3 linked regions of the Homo sapiens genome follow. The protein of the gene in region 2 purifies or fractionates together with the protein of the main gene of each other region. This does not show direct contact. Each region holds a gene or a part of one and is shown on either strand. Other genes may lie near its edges. The genes, in order: UTP14A, DHX37 and NAT10.

Region 1 (8,194 bases), on a different chromosome or scaffold from region 2:
TGGGAGGTAGGTTAGGCTTAGGGAAGGAAGTGACCTTTTGAATTAGGCTTTGAGGCCTAAGTACAATTCTGTCAGGAGGAAAAAAAATCCAAACAGATGAGCATAAGCAAAAAACACAGACACAGGGAAAGGAGTGGTATGTAATAGAACAACGTGTTGTCCAGCATAGCTAAAATGCTACGTAATTTTATTTTATTCTGTAAGTGAACAGCCTTTGAAGGATTTTAAGCAGGAGAGCAATGATCAACTGTGTTTCAGCAAGAAAATCCTGCTGATTGTGTAGAGGATATATGTAAAGTTCCAAAGGAAAGGTTCAATGAGGGCCTCGATTAGGGCAGTGAAAATGAAAATGAAGAGAAAATAGGAGCATAAGGGCTATTACAGAGACAGAATTTGCAGGTCTAGCCCCCTGTATAAGCTGGCGGAGAGGGAGACAGTGAAGGGGTCAAGAAGGAATCAAATGACTGAGGTTTCCAACCTAAGTGACTGGGGTAGGGAGTTATGCTGTTAACTGAGTTGCAGAATGAAGGGGGTGGTATAGGTTTTGGAAGTCTGGGGAAAGGAAATGCGAAGCTTACTTTGGACTGGACTAAGTTTAAGGTGCATATGGGGGACCCAGGTGATCCCTGCTAGTCACATGGAATATGAGACTGGAGCTTCAAAGAAGGGGTTGAGAGTGATAGTCGAAAGTTATGAAATTTTCACTCCTGTAATCCCAGCATTCTGGGAGGCCGAGGTGGGCGGATCACGAGGTCAGGAGATCGAGACCATCCTGGCTAACACGGTGAAACCCCGTCTCTACTAAAAAATACAAAAAATTAGCTGGGCGTGGTGGCGGGCACCTGTAGTCCCAGCTACTTGGGAGGCTGAGGCAGGAGAATGGCGTGAACCCGGGAGGTGGAGCTTGCAGTGAGCCGAGATTGCACCACTGCACTCCAGCCTGGGCGACAGAGCAAGACTCCGTCTCAAAAAAAAAAAAAAAAAAAAGTCATGGAATTTACAGAGCAAGAATAAAAAGGACTAAGGAAAGCCAGAGAGAGAAAATACCCAGAGTATATCACAGAAGCTAGAGGGGAGAGATTTTTAGAATGAAATGTGCCAATGGTGTCAAATATGCTAAAGACTAAGAGGGCTTGGGATTTGGCAATTCGGAGGCCCCTCACTAATGCCTTTTGAGAGAAGTTTCAGTAGGGCAGTAGGGGAAGAAGGTGAGAGAGAGGAGGCAGCAGTGGAGACAGACCAGCTCTTCCCCAAACACATTTCTCATCAGATAACAAGATTTGCCTCCCCTGTTAAAAGCTTAAAATTCAATTTTTTTGAAATTTTAATAAAATCAGTTTGTACACCCTAAGTTAAATTAGATCCAACAGGTGTCTTCACCATTGTTTCATAGCCTTTTTTTTTTTTTTTTTTTGAGACAGAGTCTCGCTCTGTCGCCCAGGCTGGAGTGCAGTGGCACGATCTTGGTTCACTGCAAGCTCCGCCTCCCAGGTTCATGCCATTCTCCTGCCTCAGCCTCCCAAGTAGCTGGGACTATAGGCGCCCGCCACCGTGCCCAGCTAATTTTTTATATTTTTAGTAGAGACGGGGTTTCACCGTGTTAGCCAGGATGGTCTCGATCTCCTGACCTTGTGATCCACCCACCTCAGCCTCCCAAAGTGCTGGGATTACAGGCGTGAGCCACCACGCCCGGCCCATAGCCTTTATTTTTATTTTTTATTTTTGAGACAGAGTCTCACTCTGTTGCCCAGGTTGGAGTACAGTGGCCCAACCTTGGCTTACTGCAACCTCCGCCTCCTGGGTTCAAGCGATTCTGGTGCCTCAGCCTCTTGAGTAGCTGGGATTACAGGCATAAGCCACCACGTCCAGCTAATTTTTTAATATTTTTTAGTAGAGACGATGTTTTGCCACGTTGGTCAGGCTGGTCTCAAACTCCTAACCTCAGGTGATCCACCCGCCTTAGCCTTCCAAAGTGCTGGGATTACAGGCGTGAGCCACCACATCCGTCTGGCCTGTTTCATAGACTTTAAAATGCTAAAGCATGTTGTGACTCTCCGATCTCCAGTAGGGGCATGCAGCATTTTCTAGCAATGCCTCCTCTCCTCCTCTTGTGAAGGCATAATGAGAGACTAAGGTTTCAAGGAGAATGCCTTGGGAAATACCACTGTAGACAGAGAATAGTGAGGAGAGGGGTGAAAGAAGTTACCTCACAGCATTTCTAGCACTTTGCAGTTTACAAATGCCTTCTCATGCATTATCCCACTTAATTATTTGCAGCTAAACAAAATTTTAGGGAGCTGGACCAAAACTATAGTACAGACTTTCGATTTTCTTTTCTTTTTTTTGGGGGAGGGCGGGGAAAGAGTAGAGGGTTTTTTTTTTTCCTCAGGCTGGAGTGCAGTGGCGTGATCTCGGCTCACTGTACCTTCTGCCTCCTGGATTCAAGAAATTCCCCTGCCTCAGCCTCCTCAGCAGCTGAGACTACAGGCATGTGCTACCATGCCCGGCTAATTTACATATTTTTAGTAAAGACGAGGTTTCACCATGTTGGCCAGGCTGGTCTTGAACTCCTGACCTCAGGTGATCCACCTGCCTCAGCCTCCCAAAGTGCTTGGATTATAGGCGTGAGCCACCGTGCCTGGTCTGAGACTTGATATTCAGTTTCTAGAAATCCTAATACAGCATATACTAGTTGTTGGTACTTTGCAATCTAAGTTGTAAGGAGAGACCTAGGAGTTGCTAGCCACAAAGCACCCTCTGAACTAAGCACTTCCTTATTTCTCTGTGCCCTACTAGCATAATTTCTCAAAAGTCAGTCTTAGAATGAATGAACGGCATGGTATATTCAATGTATGACATCTGAGCCTCACTCTATCTTGAAGAGGTTGTTCTATTCTTAGTGTAACCTCCTCCACTACCATCTAGTTTTTATTTTTTATTTATTTATATATATATTTTGAGACAGAGTCTCATTCTATTGCACAGGCTGGAGTGCAGTGGCACAATCTCGGCTCACTGCAACCTCCGCCTCCCAGGTTCAAGTGATCCTCCTGCCTCAGCCCCCCTAGTAGCTGGGATTACAGGCACACACCACCATGCCCCGCTAATTTTTGTATTTTTAGTAGAGATGGGGTTTCGCCATGTTGGCCAGGATGGTCTCAAACTCCTGACCTCAGGTGATCCACCTGCCTCGGCCTCCCAAAGTGCTGGGATTACAGGCGTGAGCCACCACACCCGGCCCCATCTCGTTTTTAATAACAAACTTGGCATTTTCCTGCTATCTCCAAGATTACACTGTCATTTGGAAAAAGCAAGGTGGAGGACAGTGTGTAGTAGCATGCTACCCTTCTTTTTATTTAAAAAGGAGGTAAACATGAATATAGAAATAAAACTCTAAGACAACAACAACAGCAAACTTATGCAAGTGGTTACTTCTGGGTGAGTATGGGGGTAAAAATGATCAGATGGGGCACGGGTGGAATCAAACTTTTCACTACATATCTTCTATGCTTTTTTATTTTTGAATCCTACAAATTGTATTACCTCTGATTTTTTTTTTCTAAAGTCTCCCTTCATCCTGCAGCCACACTTTAAACCTGATCTCTTTTTCATGTAGAAAAGGAAGCCTCCTAGAAAGAGAATGGTAGTGACTTCAGCAAAAACATCAGAAACAGCTTATCCCCATAATAAGCAACTACTCGCTCAATTTCTAGCTATTGTGGCAAGCAATGTTTACTTTGATTAGCTTTAATTAGCTCAACTTCCCAACGCCTAAGAAACTACCATTCTTGGGTTTTTGGAAAGTAAAGAGGAGAAGCACAAAGAGGGCATCTATTTAAGACTAATCAGCCCATTATAGACTCCATACCAATGGTGTATTGGAAAAGTAGGCTAGCTGTTCTAAAGCAGTTATTCGGACTAAAAACCGGACTTCAGGGACCAACATAGGATTTCCAACTTCTAATTTTGCCAAGAGCATAACTACCATTTCACCCCCAATCCCATCATTTACTACCACCATCATTTCATAGAAGAAAAGATATTTCAACACCATTAAAATAGAATAACCTCATAATAAAAAAGAACTGGCAACATTACACCCACCAAACAAACATACTTAGAATTATCCTTTTGCTTCAGACACAAACTTTGTTAGGGGTCAGTGTTTGGGAAACCCAGCTCTAAAACATCAACCCCTGCCCTGCAGCTCAGAGTCATAGTAAGTTACCTGCTGAAGTTCTAGTCATTGCCAGCAACACATTATATTTTAATGCGGTATTCCTGTACAAGCAAAGTTTGGCTTCTGTTGTTCACATATCCTCACTAAGGCATCATTAATGTTATCGAGTTCCTGATTTCCCTAGGATCAGAATGTGGCTTTAAATGCTTTTTAAAAACTGGGGTAAAAGAAAGAAAACATTATTATGTTCCTGCTATACGGGCAATCACATGGTTTAACACAAAAACATGGAAATAGCAAGTACTGTATACTACAAGCAGATGAAAAGTGACACAGAGACCGGGCGCATTGGCTCATGCCCGTAATCACAAAACTTTTGGGAGACTGAGGTGGGCGGATCATTTGAGGTCAGGAGTTTGAGATCAGCCTGGCCAACATGGTGAAACCCCATCTCTACTAAAAATCCAAAAAAAAAAAAATTAGCTGGGCGTGTTGGTGCACGCCAGTAATCCCAGCTACTTGGGAGGCTGAGGCAGGAGAATTGCTTGAACCCAGGAGGCAGAGGTTGCAGTGAGCTGAGATCGTGCCACTGCACTCCAGCCTGGGCGACAGAGCAAGACCCTGTCTCAAGAAAAAAAAAAAAAAAGTGATCACAGAGCTATTGTGACTGGCTATCACATGACTGACAATGACGATGGGCAACCCCTTCTTTCTGAGCACTAAGCTAAAATGACTTATGCTGGGGTTTAGCTTAACATGTCCAATCAAATCAATTGCAGGCTCTGAAATCTCCAACTTATAAAATCTCACCTTTCAGTTTCATTTTGTTGTACTCACCTTCCAGCCACTGAGCACATGTTCAATGGGAGCAATGGCTGGCTCCTCTTTCTCCAGGGGAAAAACCAGCTGCTCTGCCTGCCGGTTCTTCAGGACGACAGGGTCCCATTTGGAGAGGACTTGTGCGGTTTTATTGAATGCTACTTCTCTGTGGATCTGAAGCAGGCAAGGCATGTAAACGGAAAGAGCCACAAGATTAAAGCATCAAACCCAAAGGACTAACAAGAAATTAGGAAGCAACATTTCTTAGCCCAAGAAAGAATCAGGATGCTAGAATCAGGATGAAAGAATCAGGATGCTAGTCCTCTTGCTTCTCAGGACTGCAATTTCTCCTAGATTATTATTATTATTTAGATGGAGTTTCACTCGTGTTGCCCAGGCTGGAGAGCAATGGTGCAATCTCAGCTCACTGCAACCTCCACGTCCTGGTTCAAGGGATTCTCCTGCCTCAGCCTCCCAAGTAGCTGGGATTACACCACACCCGGCTAATTTTGTATTTTTAGTAGAGACGGGGTTTCACCATGTTGGACAGGCTGGTCTCGAACTCCTGACCTCAGGTGATCCGCCTACCTCAGCCTCCCAAAGTGCTGGGATTACAGACGTGAGCCACCGCGCCTGGCACTCCTAGATTATTTTTAATCTTATCCATAGTGGGGAAATCACAACTCCCCCTTCTCCCATTTTTCAGGTCTTTCCCTTCTTTCTATTACCCTATTTTCCCTTGTCAATTCAATTTCTTTCCCTTAATAGACCACCTTCTCTGTAGCTTACCCGTTCAATCTCTTCTTTGTTCAGAGGTAACTCCACTGTCTTCTTTGATTTGACTCTACTCAGTTGCTTTTTCACAGTGGCCAAAGAAGATGAAGTTTTAACAGGCTCAAGCAGATCTGCAAGGACCAGCTTTTCTCCTGATCCTGTGGAAAGGTCAAACTTTCTGGTCAGACCAAGAAGTGAGACAAGATCTCAATATAATGTAGGGAGAAGCCTCAGTAGAAAATGCCAGTAGATGGCAAATGTGCAGAGAAGCAAGAATAATTCTCTTACTTCAATTGCCTATTTCTAGCCATGCCAACACTATCACTCTTCTACATTCATCCCCAAACGTGTTAGGGGGTAGAAGATAGGGGAAAATATTTATTCAAAACTCATTTGCTTTTCTCCTGGTGCTTCTACTCTTGCCCCATTGCAATTCATTCTTCACATAACAGCCAAAAATAAAAACAGCCAAAGTGATCTTTTTGCTGTTGTTGTTGTTTGTTTTGAGACAGGGTCTCACTCTGTCACTTAGGCTGGAGAGCAGTGGTGCCATCTCTGCCTCCCAGGCTCAGGCAATCCTCCCAAGTAGCTGGCACTATAGGCGCGTGCCACCACGCGTGGTTAATTTTTTTAATTTTTTTTTTGTAGAGATGGGGTTTTGCCATGTTGCCCAGGCCAGCCTCAAATGGCTGGGCTGAAGCAGTCCGCCCACCTCGGCCTCCCAAAGTGCTGGAGATTACAGGTGTAAACCACTGTATCCAGCCCAAAATTATCTTTCGAAAATATAAACCACAGCATGTCATGACCCTGCTGAAAATCCTCCAGTGACTCCCCATTATACTTTGAATCTCATCTACCTAAAGGACATGGTCCTATGAGATCTAATCCCCATCTGCCTCTCTAACCTCATATCAACCCCCACCCTCTAGAATGCTTTTGTCACAGGGGCCTCTTTCCTATTCTTCAACATGTTGTGCATGTTTCTACCTTAGAGCCTTTGTGCTAGCTGTTCCTTGGCCTGAAATGCTTTCCCCAATCTTTGCATGGTTGACTTGACTTGTCATTCAGATCTCGGCTTCAATTTTGCCTCTTCAGGGGCCTTTCATGACCAACCGATCTAAAGTAGCCACTTAGTTGCTTTACTGCATCATCCTCTCTTATTGTCTCCCTTCATTAGAATGTAAACCCCATGAGCTCACATCTTATTCGCTACTTTAACCTTGGTATCTACAACAGTTCCTGATACTGCTACCTAGTAGAAACACAATAAATATCCACTGAATAAGTACGCTTGGAATACATTGTTATTTGCCCTAGGAGGCTACACCAGTGATTACTACAAATGCAAGACCCATTCTAGCTGCCTAAGTTGTGAACAGGGTGAAAAAGATTTGGCATCTAGACTCAGTATTAGGATAAAATCCCATGGCTGCCGCTTATTAGAGCATGTATTCTGAACAGGGGCAATTTTACCACCCCGCCACCCCAGGGTGAAAATTGGTTCTTTCTGGGAGAGTATGAAAAAAATCTTAGATATTACAATGTTTTGTGTCCCTCCAAGGCTCAACTCTGTCCAACAAACTCTTATTCCTTAGGACTTGATTTCCTGGGGAAGGGGCACAGGGGGAGGGATACAATGAGGAAAAAAATGTCTTGAGGCCGCGCACGGTGGCTCACGCCTGTAATCCCAGCACTTTGAGAGGCTGCGGCGGGTGGATCACGAGGTCAGGAGATCCAGACCATCCTGGCTAACACGGTGAAACCCCGTCTCTACTAAAAATACAAAAAACTAGCCAGGCGCGGTGGCGGGCACCTGTAGTCCCAGATACTCGGGAGGCTGAGGAAGGAGAATGGCGTGAACCTGGGAGGCGGAGTTTGCAGTGAGCCAAGATCGCACCACTGCACTCCAGCCTGGGCGATAGAGTGAGACTCTGTCTCAAAAAAAAAAAAAAAAAAAAAGGCTTGAAAGGCTCCTCTCAGGGGAGCAATAAAAAAGCAAAGGTTGAGAAATACTGTACTAGGCAAAGGCCCTTGAATAAGTAATGTGACCTCTCTGAGCTCTGGCTGAAGAGAATATTTGCCTGTCTCCTAACTCAAAGCATTGTTAAGAGAACTGAAATAAAAATGAAATTGTACAAATATGAATTATGACTAAGTTACTAAGAGGCAGCTGTCTTTATTCATGTCCATCTATCCTATAAGTATCTCATCAAACTCTGTAGGATACCTTGACCACAGCCTTCTAGGCTTTCTTTGAGAGATGGAAGAAACTGAAGGGCATCTGACTACACTTCTTCACCCACTCTCCCAGGTATTTATGGTATGAGTCATTAACCACATCAAAAACAGTTCCTAGGGGGGGTGAGGTGAACACAATGCCCTTGGAACTCCACAGGTTTCATGCATGGGTATCTTCCTTTG
Region 2 (8,194 bases):
GCCTGGGCGATATAGCAAGACTCCATCTCACAAAAAAAAAGAAAAAAAAGAATCATGGATGCCAAGTATGTGCTGGGCGTTCAGCACGTGTGACCTCAGGTTATCCTCCCAGCCACTCTAGGAGGGAGTTACTAGTGTTATCACCCCATTTTCCAGATGAGGAGCCTGAGACACTGAGACAGGCCTGACTGTGGGTCACGTGGATAAAAAGTGTCAGGGCTGGGCTGGGAGCTCAGTGTGGCTGGGAGCACTGTCGGGAGTGCCTCCCACAAGTGACATCAAGTCCACTCTGTAGAAACTCCGCAGTGGCTTCCCCTGGCTCTTGAGTCAGCTCCAGAGCAGGCCCCCTCCTGCCTTCCCCCAGACCTGGGTTCCTAGCATTGCCTCCTTACCTGCGTGCCTGCTGCAGGCTCACCACCCCGCCTCTAGCTTTATTGAGATAGAGTTCAGGCACCACACAGTCACCCATTGAAAGTGTGTGGGTCAGTAGTTTCCAGTGTGTTCACAAAGTTGTGCGGACATCACCACCGTGGCCATTTTCATCACCCCAGAAAGGAAGCATGTACCCTTTATCTGTCACCACCTCCCAGCTCCCTGGCCCCTGTGCCCACTCCTCTCCATGGATTTGCCAGTTTGGGACATTTCATGCAGATGGAATCCTACAATGCGTGGCCTTTGTGCCCGGCGTCTTTCCCTGAGTATGATGTTCTCAAGCTCCATCCGTGGTGTAGCGCGTGTCGCTGCTTCACTCCTATTCGCGGCTGAATCATTGTCCATTTTATGGGTGGCCCACGTTTTGTTCATGCACTCCTCCATTCAGAGACGCACAGGTTGCTTCCATCTTTTGGCTATTGTGATAAATTTATTCACGTTATTATTACTATTTTGAGATGGGGTCTCACTCTGTCACCCAGGCTGGAGTACAGTGGTGTGATCTCGGCTCACTGAAACCCCCACCTCCCAGGTTCAAATGATTCTCCTGTCTCAGCCTCCCAAGTAGCTGGGACTACAGGCGAGCGCCACCACACCCGGCTAATTTTTGTATTTTTAGTAGAGATGGGGGTTTCACCATATTGGTCAGGCTGGTCTCGAACTCCTGACCTCAGGTGATCTACCCGCCTCAGCCTCCCAAAGTGCTGGGATTACAGGCGTGAGCCACCGCACCAGGCCAATTTATTCGTATTATGCCTCACTGACTACCTGTGGCCCCTCCTGGTCAAATGACGCTCAGTCCTCATGAGTATAATAGTCTGTTAAAAACCGAAAAAAGCACCCAGCGGGGGCAAAGCACAGCCCTCAGTGCCTAGCCAGTGCTTGGGACGTGTTTTTGAGTGAATGGATGAGGTGAGTGAGTAAAGGAGGCCTTGGGGTTCCATTGGGACCTGGCCTTTGAGAGTGCCCCAGGCCCCTGTGTCCCCACTGGCATGAGCTGAGCCCGGAGAGAGGGGTTGGAGGGAGTGCCTGCCACAGACGGAGCAGGAGCACCGGACTTGTTCTTGGCATTCACCCTGTCCCTGCCACGTCTCCTTGTGTCCCAGGTCATCAACTTCCCCTTCCCGACGCCCCCCTCCGTGGAAGCCCTTCTTGCCGCCGAGGAGCTGTTGATCGCACTGGGTGCCCTGCAACCGCCCCAGAAAGCAGAAAGGTAAGGCCAAGAGATGCAGAGCCCAGTTCCTGCCCCGTTCAGGGCCCTCTCTCCCTTTTGCTGGGCCTGAGCTGCCTCAAGCGTGGGGCCTCCCAGCTGTGGCTCCAGAGCTCCTCTCAGAGCACTGCCACCACCACCTCCATCTCCAGGGTGAAGCAACTGCAGGAGAACCGGCTGAGCTGCCCCATCACTGCGCTGGGCCGGACAATGGCCACATTCCCCGTGGCACCCCGCTACGCTAAGATGCTGGCACTGAGCCGACAACACGGCTGCCTGCCCTATGCCATCACCATCGTGGCCAGCATGACGGTGCGGGAGCTGTTTGAGGAGCTGGACAGGTGCGAGGTTGGCGGCTGGGCACTCAGGGCCAAGCTCAGTTCCGACGGGGGCTCTGGGCTGAGAGTCCCAGCTACTCAGGAGGCTGAGGTAGAAGAATCATTTGAACCCAGGAGGTAGAGGTTGCAGTGAGCTGAGATTGTGCAACTGCACTCTAGCCTGGGCAACAGAGTGAGACCCTTCTCTAAAAAAAGAAAAAGAAAAGTGACACTAAGACTGTGAAAGTATGTTGAAAGTATGTTTAGTGCATTGTGTATTTAACAAAATTTACTTATAGATTATGACTACATGCTAATTCTTAGAATGAACAATTATTTAATAATTTCCTGGCATCCTATTGCGTAGATCTGCCTTTGGCAGCTTAATGATAAAAGGGGTCATTTCTGCAGAGATTTCTGGAAGCAACTTGAGTTTCTCAAGGGCTTGGTAAGTCTTCAGCGTTCACATCATTCCTCCTGAAACCGCCTTTCACGCCATCAGTTTTGACCATCTCTCCCTCAGCTGTGAGCCAGGCTTCTGCTGCCACCATCTCTCGTCCACTGTGAATGGTACAGGCAGGCCCACAATGTCACTTCATCGACTCTGTGAGCCTCTGCATCTTGTGCAAAGCCTGCTGCTTCCCTTAGGGTCAATCTGCCTGTGTTTGGACCATCTTGTCAGATGACAGAGCAGACACTAGTTGGGAAGGCAGTTAGGTGGACACTGGGGAATCTGTTGAGATCTGGATGGTTTTTCTTTGTTTATCCTCCACCACCTCCCCTCCCCGGTCCCACCCACCCTAACCAGGAACTTTGCTTTAGGCCACATCACTGCATGGGCCATTCCATACCGCAGCCACTAACCACACGTGGCCTCAGCCTGTGAAATGTGGCAGTTACGGCAACAAACTGACTTAAAACCTTACTTATTTTTAATAGTTTAAATTTAAACAGCCACATGTGGCTAGTGGCCACTGTATTGGCCAGTGCAGTTCCAGACGTTTCCCTGTGCTCTGCACGGACAGAGTTTTAATTTGAGGAAATGAGATCAGATGGTCCTGTATCTTTTCAGGGTCAGTGCATCTGAACTTCAAAAGCAGCTTTAGCCGGGCATGGTGGCTCACGCCTGTAATCCCAGCACTTGGGAGGCCGAGGCAGGCAGATCACTTGAGAGGTCAGGAATTTGAGACCAGCCTGGCCAACATGGTGAAACCCTGTCTCTACTAAAAATCAAAAAGCGGGCATGGTGATGGACACCTGTAATCCCAGCTATTCGTCAGAATCCCTTGGGGGAGAATAATAGGGTTCTCTGGAGAAACAGAAAGTGGTGTCAGTTTCAGTTGGGGTCTGAAGGCCCAAGAACCAGGAGCATCGAGGGCAGGGAAGACCCAGCTCACGCAGTCAGCAGAGCCCGAAGTCACACCTCCTCTGCCTACTTGGGCCCTCAGTGGATCAGATGTGGCCCACACCCACATTGGGGGAGGGCAGTAGCTTTATGCCAGTCACCAATTCAAAGAAACACCCAGAAATAAGGCTTAATTAGCTATCTGGGCATCCCTTTGCCCAGTCAAGTGGACACATAATTAACCATTACATGTAAGGTCTTGAAAACCAGGTGTCTTGGCCTCTGCCCAGATCTCCTGGTCCCAGCATCTCTAAGACTCCCACGTGATGCTAGTGTCAAGGCTCTGTAGCGTGGTGACTGAGAGCTCAGGTATGGTTCGAATCTCTCTCTGCCATTCTGAGCTGTGTGACCTTAGGCAAGTGACTGTACCACTCTGAGCTTCATTTTCTCCATCTGGAAAATGGGGATGATGATAATGATAATAATTGGATTGTTGGTAGAATTAAATGAGTTAACACAAGCAAAGTGCTTTGAGCCGTGCCTGACACATATGTTAAGTGTTAGTATTATTTTCAGGTTTGGAAGCCACTGGCATCATTCATTTATTCAGTCCACCCTTGGCAGCTATTTAAGCAGTTTGCAGAGTTTTTTATTACCTAAAAATGGTGCAGTGGCCGGGCACGGTGGCTCATGCCTGTAATCCCAGCACTTTGGGAGGCCGAGACGGGCGGATCACGAAGTCAGGAGATCGAGACCATTCTGGCTAACACGGTGAAACTCTGTCTCTACTAAACAAAAAATGCAAAAACTTAGCCGGGCCTGGTGGTGGGCACCTGTAGTCCCAGCTACTCGGGAGGCTGAGTCAGGAGAATGGTGTGAACCCGGAAGGCGGAACTTGCAGTGAACCGAGATCACACCACACCACTGCACTGGGCGACAGAGCGAGACTCTGTCTCAAAAAAAAGAAAAAAAAAAGAACAACAGTGCAGCGGTGGCTGCCAATGGTGAATTTTGAGCTGGACCTTAATACCTTAATTACATTCATCAGTGACCCCACAAGGCCTCTGAGCCTGTCCCGATGAATAAAGGAGTTCCCCCCGCTGAGGCCCTGAGCGCAGCCGAGGCCCCAGCCCAGACAGTATGTATGTGTGTTTGCAGACCAGCGGCCAGTGACGAGGAGCTCACCAGGCTGAAGAGCAAGCGGGCCCGGGTGGCCCAGATGAAGAGGACCTGGGCAGGGCAGGGGGCTTCTCTGAAGCTCGGCGACCTCATGGTGCTGCTGGGTTTGTGCCCTGCCCGTTGGAGGGTGGCGGGAGGGTCACCCAGGTCTGGGATGGGTCAGAGAGAGAGCATGCCCCCTCTTCGTTCCCCAGGCGCCGTGGGAGCCTGTGAGTATGCCAGCTGCACACCCCAGTTTTGCGAAGCCAACGGGCTGCGGTACAAAGCCATGATGGAGATCCGGCGCCTGCGGGGCCAGCTGACCACCGCAGGTACGGCCCCGTGCCGGCACGCCGCTGCACCCGGCGGGCAACCTGACCTGGGCACTTGAAATGTTTAAAAAAGTGATCCATAGAGTCCACGTTTGCAAACTTGCTACGCACCAAAATGTATTTATAACCCTAAATCAATACTTGGGGAGCTTTTCCAGGAACAAGGGAATGTGCACATGAGCAGGGCACTAACAGATTCGAGCTGCCAGCCTGCACCCTCCCCCACCAGGTCGTCGCTCGGTTTCACCTTTTCCCTGGCGATACCCCCTGCCATTTTCCATCACCGCTGTGGCCTGGACCCCTCTTCCCTCCCACATGTCCCCCAGACCCTTCTCATGCAGAAGGATGAGGCCTTGCCCTGGACTCTACCTCAGCTCAGCAGCACAAATACTTCCTGCCACCAACACCCAGGGAAGCTTGAGAGGAAGGAAATGTCCTCCAACATATGGCAAGAGGACGATGCGTAGAGAGGGCAGCGTGGACACTGGGTCTCTTCTGGGCAGGCCACGTTCTTGCACCCAAGGCTAGTGGAGAATTTGCCTTCCATTTAAGCAGATCCCAAGGTTTGATGCCAGAATTGATGGCTCTCTTCCGGCCGATCCTTCTCCCAGCGCCAGGTGCATGGTGGTGGCCCTGTCACCATGCTCTGTGTCCTTCTGGCTGTGGCTTTCCAGAGCAGCCCCATTCCAGGTGCAGCAGCTTAGAATTGCAGTCAGCCTCCAGACAGTGCTGGTTACAGTGGCTTGGTGACATTAGACCTTTATTGTTGCAAGGAAGAGAAGTCACTTGAGTCAGCAGCCCAGGGCGTTTCTCTGCTGCCATCCTCCTGCCATTCGCTGTGCCTTCCATCCTAAGGTCACCTCTTGGGCTGAGGAGGTAGTTGGAGGCTTAGTCACCTCTGCCTTCCAGGCAAGAGAAGGGAAGGATGAGGCCAGGGCACCCGCCGGCTGTCCTGTTCCCGTATTGAACGTTCCCAGGAATTCCAGCCGCAACTTCCTTCTTCACATCATGGACCAGAACTGAGTCTGAGGCCACCTGGGTGTTAGGGGAGGGCTGTCTCCTCGAAGAATGCTCTGCTGCCCAGGCAGGATGTGGGGCTTTGTCCCAAGGGAGAAGGAGGGAATGGGGGGGCGGCTGCAATCCTGCCTGCTGGGGGCTTTGGGTCCTGCTGGTGGCCTCTGGGGAGGGGTTGAGACAAGCAGGTGGCTGAGGCTAGAGCACTGAGCATGGTTGGGACTTTCTAGGAGGTCAGGGCAGAGCTGGCTCCGGGCCTTGCCACCACCGACCTCACTCTTGGTTCTCCCCTCAGTCAATGCCGTGTGCCCCGAGGCTGAGCTCTTCGTGGATCCCAAGATGCAGCCGCCCACCGAGAGCCAGGTGACCTACCTGCGACAGATCGTGACGGCAGGCCTGGGGGACCACTTGGCCCGCAGGGTCCAGAGCGAGGAGATGCTGGAGGACAAGTGGAGGAACGCCTACAAGGTGCGGCCCCCACCGCCTCCCTGCCCGGGTAGCTTGGGGCACCTGGTGAGGGGCAGGCGGGCTGGGCCCTCAGGGTCTGGGGAGGCTTGTTCCCTCTCAGCTGTGGGTCCCCACTGAGGAACAAGTGGGGCTTGCAGTAGAATCACATCTTCCTTGGTTAGTTTCTCCCAACTTTTTTTTTTTAATAACAGTTTAGTGGAGATAAAATTCACACAGCATTTAAACTCTTTTGGGGTTTTTTGTGTTTTCTAGAAACAAGGTCTCGCTCTGTTGCCCAGGATAGAGTGCAGTGGCACAATCATAGCTCACTGCAGCCTCGAATTCCCAGGCACAAATAACCTTCTCGCCACAGCCTCCTGAGTAGTTGGGACTGCAGGGGGCACACCACCACCTCCGACTAATTTTGTTGTTGTTGTTTTCTTTTTTGAGACAGAGCCTCACTCTGTTGCCCAGATTAGAGTATAGTGGTGCGAACTCAGCTCACTGCAACCTCCACCTCCTGGGTTCCAGCAATTTTCCTGCCTCAGCCTCCCAAATAGCTAGGATTACAGGTGTGTGCCACCATGCCCAGCTAATTTTTGTATTTTTAGTAGAGAAGGGGTTTCACCATTTTGGCCAGGCTGGTCTTGAACTCCTGGCCTCAAGTGATCTGCCCACCTCGGCCTCCCAAAACGCTGGGCTTACAAGCAGTGTTACCCAGGCTAGTCTTGAACTCCTGGCCTCTAGGAATCCTTCCACCTTGGCCTCCCAAAGTGTTAGGATGACAAGTGTGACCCACTGCATCTGGCCTGCATTTAAACCCATTTAAAGTGTTCAATTCAGTGGGTTTTAGTATTTTCACAGAGTTTTGCAACCATTATCATAGTTAACTTTAGAACATTTTTATTACCCAACAAAGAAACCCCACATATGTAAGCTGTGAGTCCCCAGTTCCCCGTCACCCCCGTTTTCATGATCCTGCTTTCCATCTGTGGATCTGCCTGTTCTGGACATTTGGCATGAGTGGAATCTTAACATACATGGCTTTTCATGTCTGGCCTCTTGCACTTAGTGTGATGCTTTCAAGCCCCATCCACGCCATGGCAGGTGTCGGTGCTTCCTTTTTTTTTTTTTTTTGAGAAGGAGTTTTGCTCTTATTGCCCAAGCCGGAGTGCAATGGCGTGATCTCAGCTCACTGCAACCTCCACCTCCCGGGTTCAAGCAATTCTCCTGCCTCAGCCTCCCAAGTAGCTGGGATTACAGGTGTGTGCCACCATGCCCAGTTAATTTTTTGTATTTTTAGTAGAAATGGGGTTTCACCAACATGGTGAAACCAGCCAGGCTGGTCTCGAACTCTTGACCTCAGATGATCCACCCTCCTCGGCCTCCCAGAGTGTTGGGATTACAGGCGTGAGCCATTGCACCCGGCACTTCCTTCCTTTTCACGGCTGGATCAGACTCCAGCGTGTGGATGGGCCGCATTTCCCGGCAGATGGAGCACTCTCCCACTTTTGCGGCTGGAGTGGATAATCAGATTCTTCTCCTGGGTTGAAAGTATGCGGAGCCCCTGGGCATGGGTTCTTCCCTGACCACATCACTCTCCATTCTCTGCAGACCCCTCTCCTCGACGACCCTGTCTTCATCCACCCCAGCTCCGTCCTTTTCAAAGAGCTCCCCGAGTTTGTGGTCTACCAGGAAATCGTGGAGACCACTAAGATGTACATGAAAGGTGCCGAGGCCTGCGGACAGCCCCTTGTCCCCCGATGGTGACGCTAATGGGGGTGTGGCTGGGACCCTGGGGCAGAGGCATGGCAGCCCCTCCCACGGAGGGTGCCGCTGTAACCCCAGCTTCCTCCCCCGGCCCCCAGGCGTCTCTAGCGTGGAGGTCCAGTGGATCCCGGCCCTGCTGCCCTCTTACTGCCAGTTTGACAAGCCCCTG
Region 3 (8,194 bases), on a different chromosome or scaffold from region 2:
TGATGTCTTCCTGTGGAGCTCGTAGAGGGTTAAGTAAGACAATACTTATAGATATGCCTAGCACAGTCCCAGGCCCCACAAAAGGCAGCCAGCTAATGTTCCTTAGACAATCTAGTGCGCATGGCCAGTTGTATTTCTTTCTCTTTTAGTAATAATTTTTCACCATGCATCGGAAAAAGGTGGATAACCGAATCCGGATTCTCATTGAGAATGGAGTAGCTGAGCGGCAAAGATCTCTCTTTGTTGTAGTTGGGGATCGAGGAAAAGATCAGGTATGGCCTGGTAAATGCTTCCTGAATTACTTTTTATCTTGTCCAAAGAATCAGCATGTTTAAGCACTCTGCTGTTTCAGGACATAATGGCATTAAGATCTCTTTGGCTGGTAAGATGCCTAGTGGGAACCTTTCTTTATTTCCTGGAAGTGGTGAATTCTCTGTATTTAGATTGATTCGCAGACAAGCTAATACCTTTTGAAGCCTGGGGTGGTGGGTTGACCACAAAGTGAACTGTATGTGACCTGGCTTCTAGTCCAAACCTGGTCATTGCTCGCCTTAGAACCTTGGGCACTTCCCTTCCCTGGCCCTCAGTTTAGTTTCCACATCCGTCAAATGAGGTCTTAAGCCTGGCGGTCTCTAAAGTCTCTTTTGTGCCTGAAATTCTGTGACTTTTTTGTTTGGCAGGTGGTAATACTTCATCACATGTTATCCAAAGCAACTGTGAAGGCTCGGCCTTCAGTGCTGTGGTGTTATAAGAAAGAGCTGGGGTTTAGCAGGTAAGCTGGGCTCTTCATGTGTTTTATCCAACTTACAATTCCTGCTCATTAGTTAAATGCCAGGAAATGATTCCTTCACATATTTTTTAAGGGTCTTTAGTGGAGGTGCTATCTCTGAGGACAAATGGAGCTGATATCCTTTCTTCATTCCTGAAAATAAGTTTCAAATCATTTTCATGCTTTTTAAGTCACCAATCCAATGCCTTGCCTTCTGCATATGGTTTTCCTTCCTGCTTTTCTAGGCTGATTAAGCCCATCTCATTGCAAGTTCCTTCAAACTGTCTTTCCTACCTCAAATTTATTCCACTTTTCACTCTCTCTCTTTTTCTCCCCTTCTTTCATGGAGGGGGTATATGCCTCATCCCATGTCCAAGGAAAACCCCTTTATGTACCCTGTGTCTCCTCCCTCACCTCTTTCAGGACCTGTATTGTCTTTCCTCTGCTGGCCACCCAATACCCTTTGGAAACTTTCTCCTTCCTGTAAACATGCTCAGATTTTTCTATTATCAAAAGCTGATTACTTACATACCCAGATTTCTCTCTCAGGTTAGCATTTCCCCCGATTTTTATTGCCATATACCTTAAAACAGAAATCTTTTGCACTTAGTAGCCACTTTTGCAGTCTGGTTTCTGCTTCTATAATTGTGATCAAATTGTGCAGTTAGACATCCCCAGCAGCTTGATGCCTAATGCGTCAACTTTTCTCTCTCTTTCTCCTCCTTTTCAGAGCTCTGCCTCTTCTTCTACCAGTTCACTGCTGTATTTGACAGTTGGCTATTTGAAGCTGTGGTAGTCAAGACTTTTAGTCATAGATAACATACTTTCAACACAAATACAATTTGGCACAAAGGGATTTCATTGAGGTATATGGGATATTTCCTGGAATCCAAGGGGATAAGATTTCAGCTCTGCTCACGGGTGATCTAGAGTCACAGTACTAATGCTCCCAGCTCAGTTTGTCATCTCAGTGTATCTGCTCTATGCAGACCAACTTTCTCACTGCAGACCAGCTTTCTGTTTTCTGTTGTCCCCCTAGCAGAAACAACACTTGCGTTTTCCTTGTTTCAGGCCCAGCCATGTGGAAATCAGACTTTTTCCCAAAATTCTGGTGGAAAAATGCCCACACCTGGCCAGAGGAGGGTGGGGTTGGTCATAGCATAATACAAAGTTGGAAGTTCTACCTACAACTTTGTGTTTGGAGAAGTTTGGATGGGGTGGGTAGTGCTGTTCCTTGGCAGATAACCACCATGGCATCACCTAAGAAATAGTCTCCTTTTTTGGCTTCAGTGTCTTTACTCAGACCACCTTCCGGAGCTCTTCTCTTTCTCTGGATCTCGTCTCCTTACTCTAAACCTAGCTGGCTTGTGCGATTCTGTCCTTGAGCCTCTTCTAATTTCCAAATGTGCTCATCTCCGATCTGACTCTGAAAGCCTGTCTCCAGCTCTGGTTGCTTTATGCTGTGACTAACCTCCCTCCTTTTCTTTGCTCATGCTGTCTCCTCTGCTTGGAATGCCACTTCCACCTCCCCGGTATCACCTATTGAAATCCTGTTTCTCAGGGCCTGCCTCCTCCGTGAAACTTTTCCTGAGCCCCCCAGTCATACCTGGTGGTTCCTCTACCTTCCTCTGCACTTGTCCTTCTCCTATAATGTTTGCCAATGGATGCTTTTGCTTTAGGGTAAAGTCACTTACATACTGTGACTTACGTTCATTTTTTTTTCTTTCCCTTTTTTTTTTTTTTTTTTTTTTTTTACTTTCAGGTGATAAGCTTATTTAGTTAGGAGCCCTCTTCTATTTATCTTTGTATTTTCATACTTTTAACTGATTTAGCATGTTTATCATAGGTACTCAGTATACATTGAGTTGGATGTGTTGTTAACAGGCTCTAAAATTATTTTAATTTAAATTAGTACCAGAGGCTAAACTTGCCCCTGTCCTGTGGTCTTAAAGTGAAGGGATTCTGCCTAAAGGAAACCAGACAATCATAAGAGCCTTACTGATGAAATGTGAAAAGTGCAGAAAACCCAAAGATGAAAATAAAAAACATCTCACTGTCTAGGCATTGTCAGCATCTAGGTGTATCTTACAGGGATGTAGTTTTGAACCATAATTGGTATTCTGTTGTATATACTCTCATATTTAGAGAGGTAGGCATTTTTAATACAGATTGAGAATAAGGCCTGTTGTCTATCCCAGAATTTTAAGTTTTTAGGGCTTCTGGTTTTCACTATTTTTCATTTGGCAAATATGAGATGGGTGTGGAATTAGGCAGTTCAAAGTCTTCTGGGCAGATTTGCCTTTTGAATTTAAACCACCTGGCTTCACTTCTAAAAATCTACTTTTGTACCTCTTATAGCTCTTCTGCCCCACCCCTGTCTTAGTCTGGCAGAGCATTGTGTTCAAGCTAATGCCTGTTTGTAAGTCACGGGCTTAAGGCCTGAGCCAGAAGGGACAGTGGAGACAAACTCACCCACTGCCTTGGTTCATAGATGAGGAAGTGGAGGCCCACAGGAGGAAAGGCCTTTGTTCTAGCTATTAAGTTAGAGAACTATGGTAAAATTTTGATCAGCTGTAATCCTCCATTCTAGAACATTCTAATTCTCTCTTTTGGTAAAGGAAAGGTAAGTAGCAACTGGATATGCAGGGTTTTTAAGACCAAAAAAATTCAGGAATTCCTTAGAGATGTCCAGATTCCATTCTGATCCCTGTGTCCTGTATCATTATTGTCTTATGTAAGACCTGCCCTTGAAGACATAATCCCACATTCTCGGGGAGGAAGTCCTCTAGGAAGGATGAATAAAGTAACGTGCCATCACCTTGTCTTTCCTAGGATCTCTGGGGAACAGCACAGTGTAGTTGAAGCATTGGCTTATGACTGAGATAATGAGGCCACTCAGGTTTGGTTTCAAGCTCTGGCTTTGGCCAAATGTGAGGGTTAGCTACCCTATTACCCATCTTTTAAAGCAAAGTATTTGCTCAAGGTCACAGGGCAAAATAGCAGAGTTCACACATAGACTTATCACTTACTCCAAGCCCTTAAGCACTCTAATGCCTCTCATGCCTCTCCACTGCCCTCCACCTGAAGTGGGCCTCACACTTTCAAGTTCCCTACTAGCTCTGAAAGTCTAAGTGGGTGATCACTGAGCCTTTCCCCTGGTTCCAGCTCTTTAGCTGCTCTGGTTAACTGGCTCTCATGGGATTGGGGGTGTGTGATTGCAGTCACCGGAAGAAAAGAATGCGACAGCTGCAGAAGAAAATAAAGAATGGAACACTGAACATAAAGCAGGACGACCCCTTTGAACTCTTCATAGCAGCCACAAACATTCGCTACTGCTACTACAACGAGACCCACAAGATCCTGGGCAATACCTTCGGCATGTGTGTGCTGCAGGTGGGTGGCTTCCTCTAACCTGTGATTGAAGTCAGAGTCTTGAGGGTTGCTTGGGCTGCCTGGCTTTCCACTGGGAACAGATGTACAGTAAGGAGAGGAGAGTCCCATGTTCCCTATGCCCAAGCATTATTAGTGGAAGTCCTGGCCACTTTCCAAAGTACACTCGGTCACCTACCCCATATAAAAAGAGAATTTTAAATCAGCACTTGTCTAGAGACACCAGAACTGAAGTGATGAGTTATTATAACGGGTTCTAACTAGCTAAAGCTGATAAAGCAAATGCCAGAGACTTTGAGTGCCTCTAGGACCCTAGGTCCTTATTGGCATTCACCAAAGACTTTTTTTGTCCAGTGAGCAATGGGACTTGTTTTCCAACCGGATATAGACCAATGCACTTAAATGTCCTGTCCAGAGTGCCTGAGTGGCATACCCACCATGAAGGCCCCTCTCCCCTTTTCTAGCCCTTAAAAACCCCTCACTTTACCTCTCAGAGACTACTTGGTGAATTTCTGCACTGGTGTGTATTCTCTTGCCTGGCAAGTTAATAGACTAAGTTTCACTTTGTGTGTGTGTGTGTGCATGTGTGTGTAAGCACTGGTGGTCTTTGTTTTATTCTTTGTTTCTTTGATTCCTGTGCCACCTCCCTTCCCCATTCTCCCAAAAAAGACAAGACAAAATTAAGCACAAATCCTCACATTTTTGTGTGTTTATCATATACACTTACAACTGTGCCCATTATTATGTCAAGTTACATACCTTGCAAAATATGGGTTGTCTCCTATACTGCTGGCTTGCATCTCACCTTGGAGGCCAAGAAAGAGGGCATTATGCCTCATTTTCACCTTTACTCAGGGAAATGCCCTGGGTTATCACTGATTGGTAGGGAGTGGTCTTCTACTTGCTGCCATGATCAATTGCCTGAATAATGACTCCTGTGAGCAGTAGCTCCCCCATGTAGTATAGTTTTGTCAAACAGGTTTGAGCTATAAATGTCAGAAAATGTAAGATGTTTCTGAAATTCAAGTATGAATCAGTGAAGGTTGGAAAATTTGTTTCCAAATAGGATTTTATCAGAGACATTTTTGACATATAAAACTAACAACGTCTCTAATAAGAGACCCGTTTTTGGCATATAAAACCAGGTATTCGTATATTCGAGGGTTTGGCCCTCTTCTGTGGTACCCCTGTGTGTGTATCCTGGGAAGTCAAGGTGGGAACAGGTATGGTCTTGGCTTTGTGCTCTGAAGTCTTCTTTTTGCCTTATCACCTGGCTTTTGGTTAAGAGTCCCTTGGGTTGGGCCAGGCGCGGTGGCTCATGCCTGTAATCCCAGCACTTTGGGAGGCTCAGGTGGGTGGTGAGCCAAGATTGCGCCACTGCACTCCAGCCTGGGCGACAGAGCAAGACTCCATCTCAAAAAAAAAAAAAAAAAAAAAAAAGTCCTTTGGGTTGCTATTTGCATGACCAGCCCTTTCTAACGCCCCCTTCTTCCAGGATTTTGAAGCCTTAACTCCAAACTTGCTGGCCAGGACTGTAGAAACAGTGGAAGGTGGTGGGCTAGTGGTCATCCTCCTACGGACCATGAACTCACTCAAGCAATTGTACACAGTGACTATGGTAAGCATCTGTTTTTTAACTTAATTGTGAGGGTTCAAGTAAATCTGTTTTTGCTGTGTTCTGCTTTCTTTAAAGAATTCCTGTTGGGCAGCTCCAGTGAGTAGTCAGCACAGCCTCTGGGCTAAGAGCTCTTTGATTTTAACTAATGAAAAAGTCACTACAGTTAAATCTCAGGGTCCATGAGTATGCCTAGGAATCTCTGAATTTCACCTTTGTTTTCAGGCACTTGCAAATTCTACACCAGTGAGATTCAGATATGATACAGCTTTTATGTAGTTAAATTTTCTGGAATGATATTGTACAAGGAGCAATGCCAGTGCCTAAATTTGTGTATTGCAAAAAAAGGACCATGTGCAGACTGCTCACTGGCCCTTATCCTAATGGATGACGAAGGAACATTTGCCAGTTGTACTCCAGTTTGGCAAGAATTTCAACTCCAGCAGAGATTGTGTTCTCCCAAAGCAAAAGACACTGACTGAGGACATGGTGAGGAATTAGGGATATGTCTCACCTGATGCAGAGCTGGTCTCCTCACTTTATCAGCGTTGCCAAGTCAGTGTTCAGAGGCAAGTTTTAAGTCATGCCCATGTCCAGCAGCTCAGTAATGGTGGTCGGATTGGACTTAGGGTTTCCTGAGCTGCATTTATCTGATGAAATGGACTTTCCTCAAATCTTAGGGGCTGTTTCCTGTCATTACTTCTCCCTTCATCACTTGCACTACAGCCCTTTTGGCCTCCTCAAATGTCCTCAGACATGCCCAGCACACACTCCTGCGAGGGCCTCGGCACTTGCTGTTCCCACTGGAATGTGCTTCCTCTGGACCTCTGCCTGGCTCGCTTCCTCATTGCATTCAAGCCCCTGCTCAGATATCACCTCATCCATGTGGTCTTTCCTCACACCCTGTTTACAGTAGGCAGCTCCGCCTGTCACTCCTTAACCGGCTTTATTTTTCTTCAAAGCACTTGACAATGACCTAAAGTTATTATTATTATTTGTCTGTCCTCCTGTACTAGTCTCTAAATTTCACTGGAGGGCCGATCACAGTGGCTCACGCCTGTAATCCTAGCACTTTGGGAGCCTGAGGTGGGCGGATCACCTGAGGTCAGGAGTTTGAGACCAGCCTGGCCAACATGGTGAAACCTCGTCTCTACCAAAAATACAAAAAAAATTAACCAGGTGTGGTGGTGCACACCTGTAATTCCAGCTACTAGGGAGGCTGAGGCAGGAGAATTGCTTGAACTCAGGAGGCGGAGGTTGCGGTGAGCTGAGGTCACGCCACTGCACTCCAGCCTGGGCAACAGAGCAAGACTCCGTCTCAAAATAAATAAATAAGTAAATAAATTTGATGGGAACAGAGAGTTAGTTTTCTTTGCTGTTGCATTTCCAGATCTTAGAAGAGTTCCTGGCATTTAGTAAGCATTCCTTAGATAGTTGAGAGTGAATGAATGACTTTGTGCTCACATCAGTTTGTTCTTCCTCTCCCTCTGACATAGCTACCTACTTACCCTTCAGGCCTCAGCTTATCTCAGAGAGGCCCTCCCTCACTACCCTACATAAGTGACCCCCACTTGCTATCCGTGCAGTCTATATTTCATATGTAGCATTTGTCAAAATTTGTATTTATCTACTAATTTTTCTTCCTCCATCCATTATACTCCAAGTGCCATGAGAACAGAGGTCATGCTTTGTTCATTAGTGTATGCACAGCATATCTGGCACACAGCATGCCAATTTTATGAAATAAATGAATATAACTTAGGATGCTAGGAAAAATGTGGAAAAGTGAAAGATTTTAATAAGCAACGTTGCATTCAGTGTCTGATCCCAGTTTCAGCAAATACCATTTGGCACAGCAGTGTGTGTGGGAGTGATTTTGTTTCCAGCAAGATTGCCCATGTCTCCTTGGATAGAGCTTTGTATTTGGACCCTGGTCCTCAGCACTGTTTGCATGCCTTTGTTAATGGATGTTGTCTTTCTTTGTTAGGATGTGCATTCCAGGTACAGAACTGAGGCCCATCAGGATGTGGTGGGAAGATTTAATGAAAGGTAATTCTATAGTTCCCCCCAATTGTGGGGCAGCCACATTGGGAGGGACATTTTTATCTTGGACTCAACTGAAAACTTTGCTTTTATATTGGGGAAAGTAGTACAATATTCCAAAAATGATGAGATTCTTGACAGCAGCAGCAGTTGTGAGACTAACTGGAAGCAGTGAAACGTGGTGGAAAGTTGGAGCCAGGAAACCTCAATTTTGTCTTGCTGCTGGCCTTGACAGCTCAGTTAAACCAGGTTACTCTCTCTGGTTCTTAGCTTACTCATCTTTTAAATGAGTGATTTTTCTGGATCACTGCTTCCCAGAAGATATTTCATAGAGCAGTAGTCTTTCCAAACTTTTTATTATGAATATGACGTACTGG

What was found.
Region 1: the proteins of DHX37 (region 2) and UTP14A purify together in Homo sapiens (affinity purification with mass spectrometry; 2 studies listed by BioGRID and IntAct, with this or other methods). This does not show direct contact.
Region 3: the proteins of DHX37 (region 2) and NAT10 fractionate together in Homo sapiens (co-fractionation; 2 studies listed by BioGRID). This does not show direct contact.

Annotation. Positions count from the first base shown.
Region 1 is NC_000023.11:129,908,745-129,916,938, reverse strand, and holds part of UTP14A (U3 small nucleolar RNA-associated protein 14 homolog A), read right to left. Parts: intron 5,932-8,194; coding exon 5,789-5,931; intron 5,174-5,788; coding exon 5,018-5,173; intron 4,361-5,017; exon of another isoform or gene 4,248-4,360; coding exon of another isoform or gene 4,229-4,247; intron 3,630-4,228; coding exon of another isoform or gene 3,544-3,629; intron 1-3,543. UniProt on the Homo sapiens protein: May be required for ribosome biogenesis.
Region 2 is NC_000012.12:124,950,480-124,958,673, reverse strand, and holds part of DHX37 (probable ATP-dependent RNA helicase DHX37), read left to right. Parts: intron 1-1,538; coding exon 1,539-1,645; intron 1,646-1,794; coding exon 1,795-1,983; intron 1,984-4,462; coding exon 4,463-4,587; intron 4,588-4,677; coding exon 4,678-4,794; intron 4,795-5,703; coding exon of another isoform or gene 5,704-5,723; exon of another isoform or gene 5,724-5,860; intron 5,861-6,103; coding exon 6,104-6,276; intron 6,277-7,869; coding exon 7,870-7,984; coding exon of another isoform or gene 7,985-8,021; intron 8,022-8,123; coding exon 8,124-8,194. UniProt on the Homo sapiens protein: ATP-binding RNA helicase that plays a role in maturation of the small ribosomal subunit in ribosome biogenesis. Required for the release of the U3 snoRNP from pre-ribosomal particles.
Region 3 is NC_000011.10:34,108,062-34,116,255, forward strand, and holds part of NAT10 (RNA cytidine acetyltransferase), read left to right. Parts: intron 1-149; 5' UTR 150-164; coding exon 165-272; intron 273-680; coding exon 681-772; intron 773-3,990; coding exon 3,991-4,162; intron 4,163-5,654; coding exon 5,655-5,777; intron 5,778-7,761; coding exon 7,762-7,823; intron 7,824-8,194. UniProt on the Homo sapiens protein: RNA cytidine acetyltransferase that catalyzes the formation of N(4)-acetylcytidine (ac4C) modification on mRNAs, 18S rRNA and tRNAs.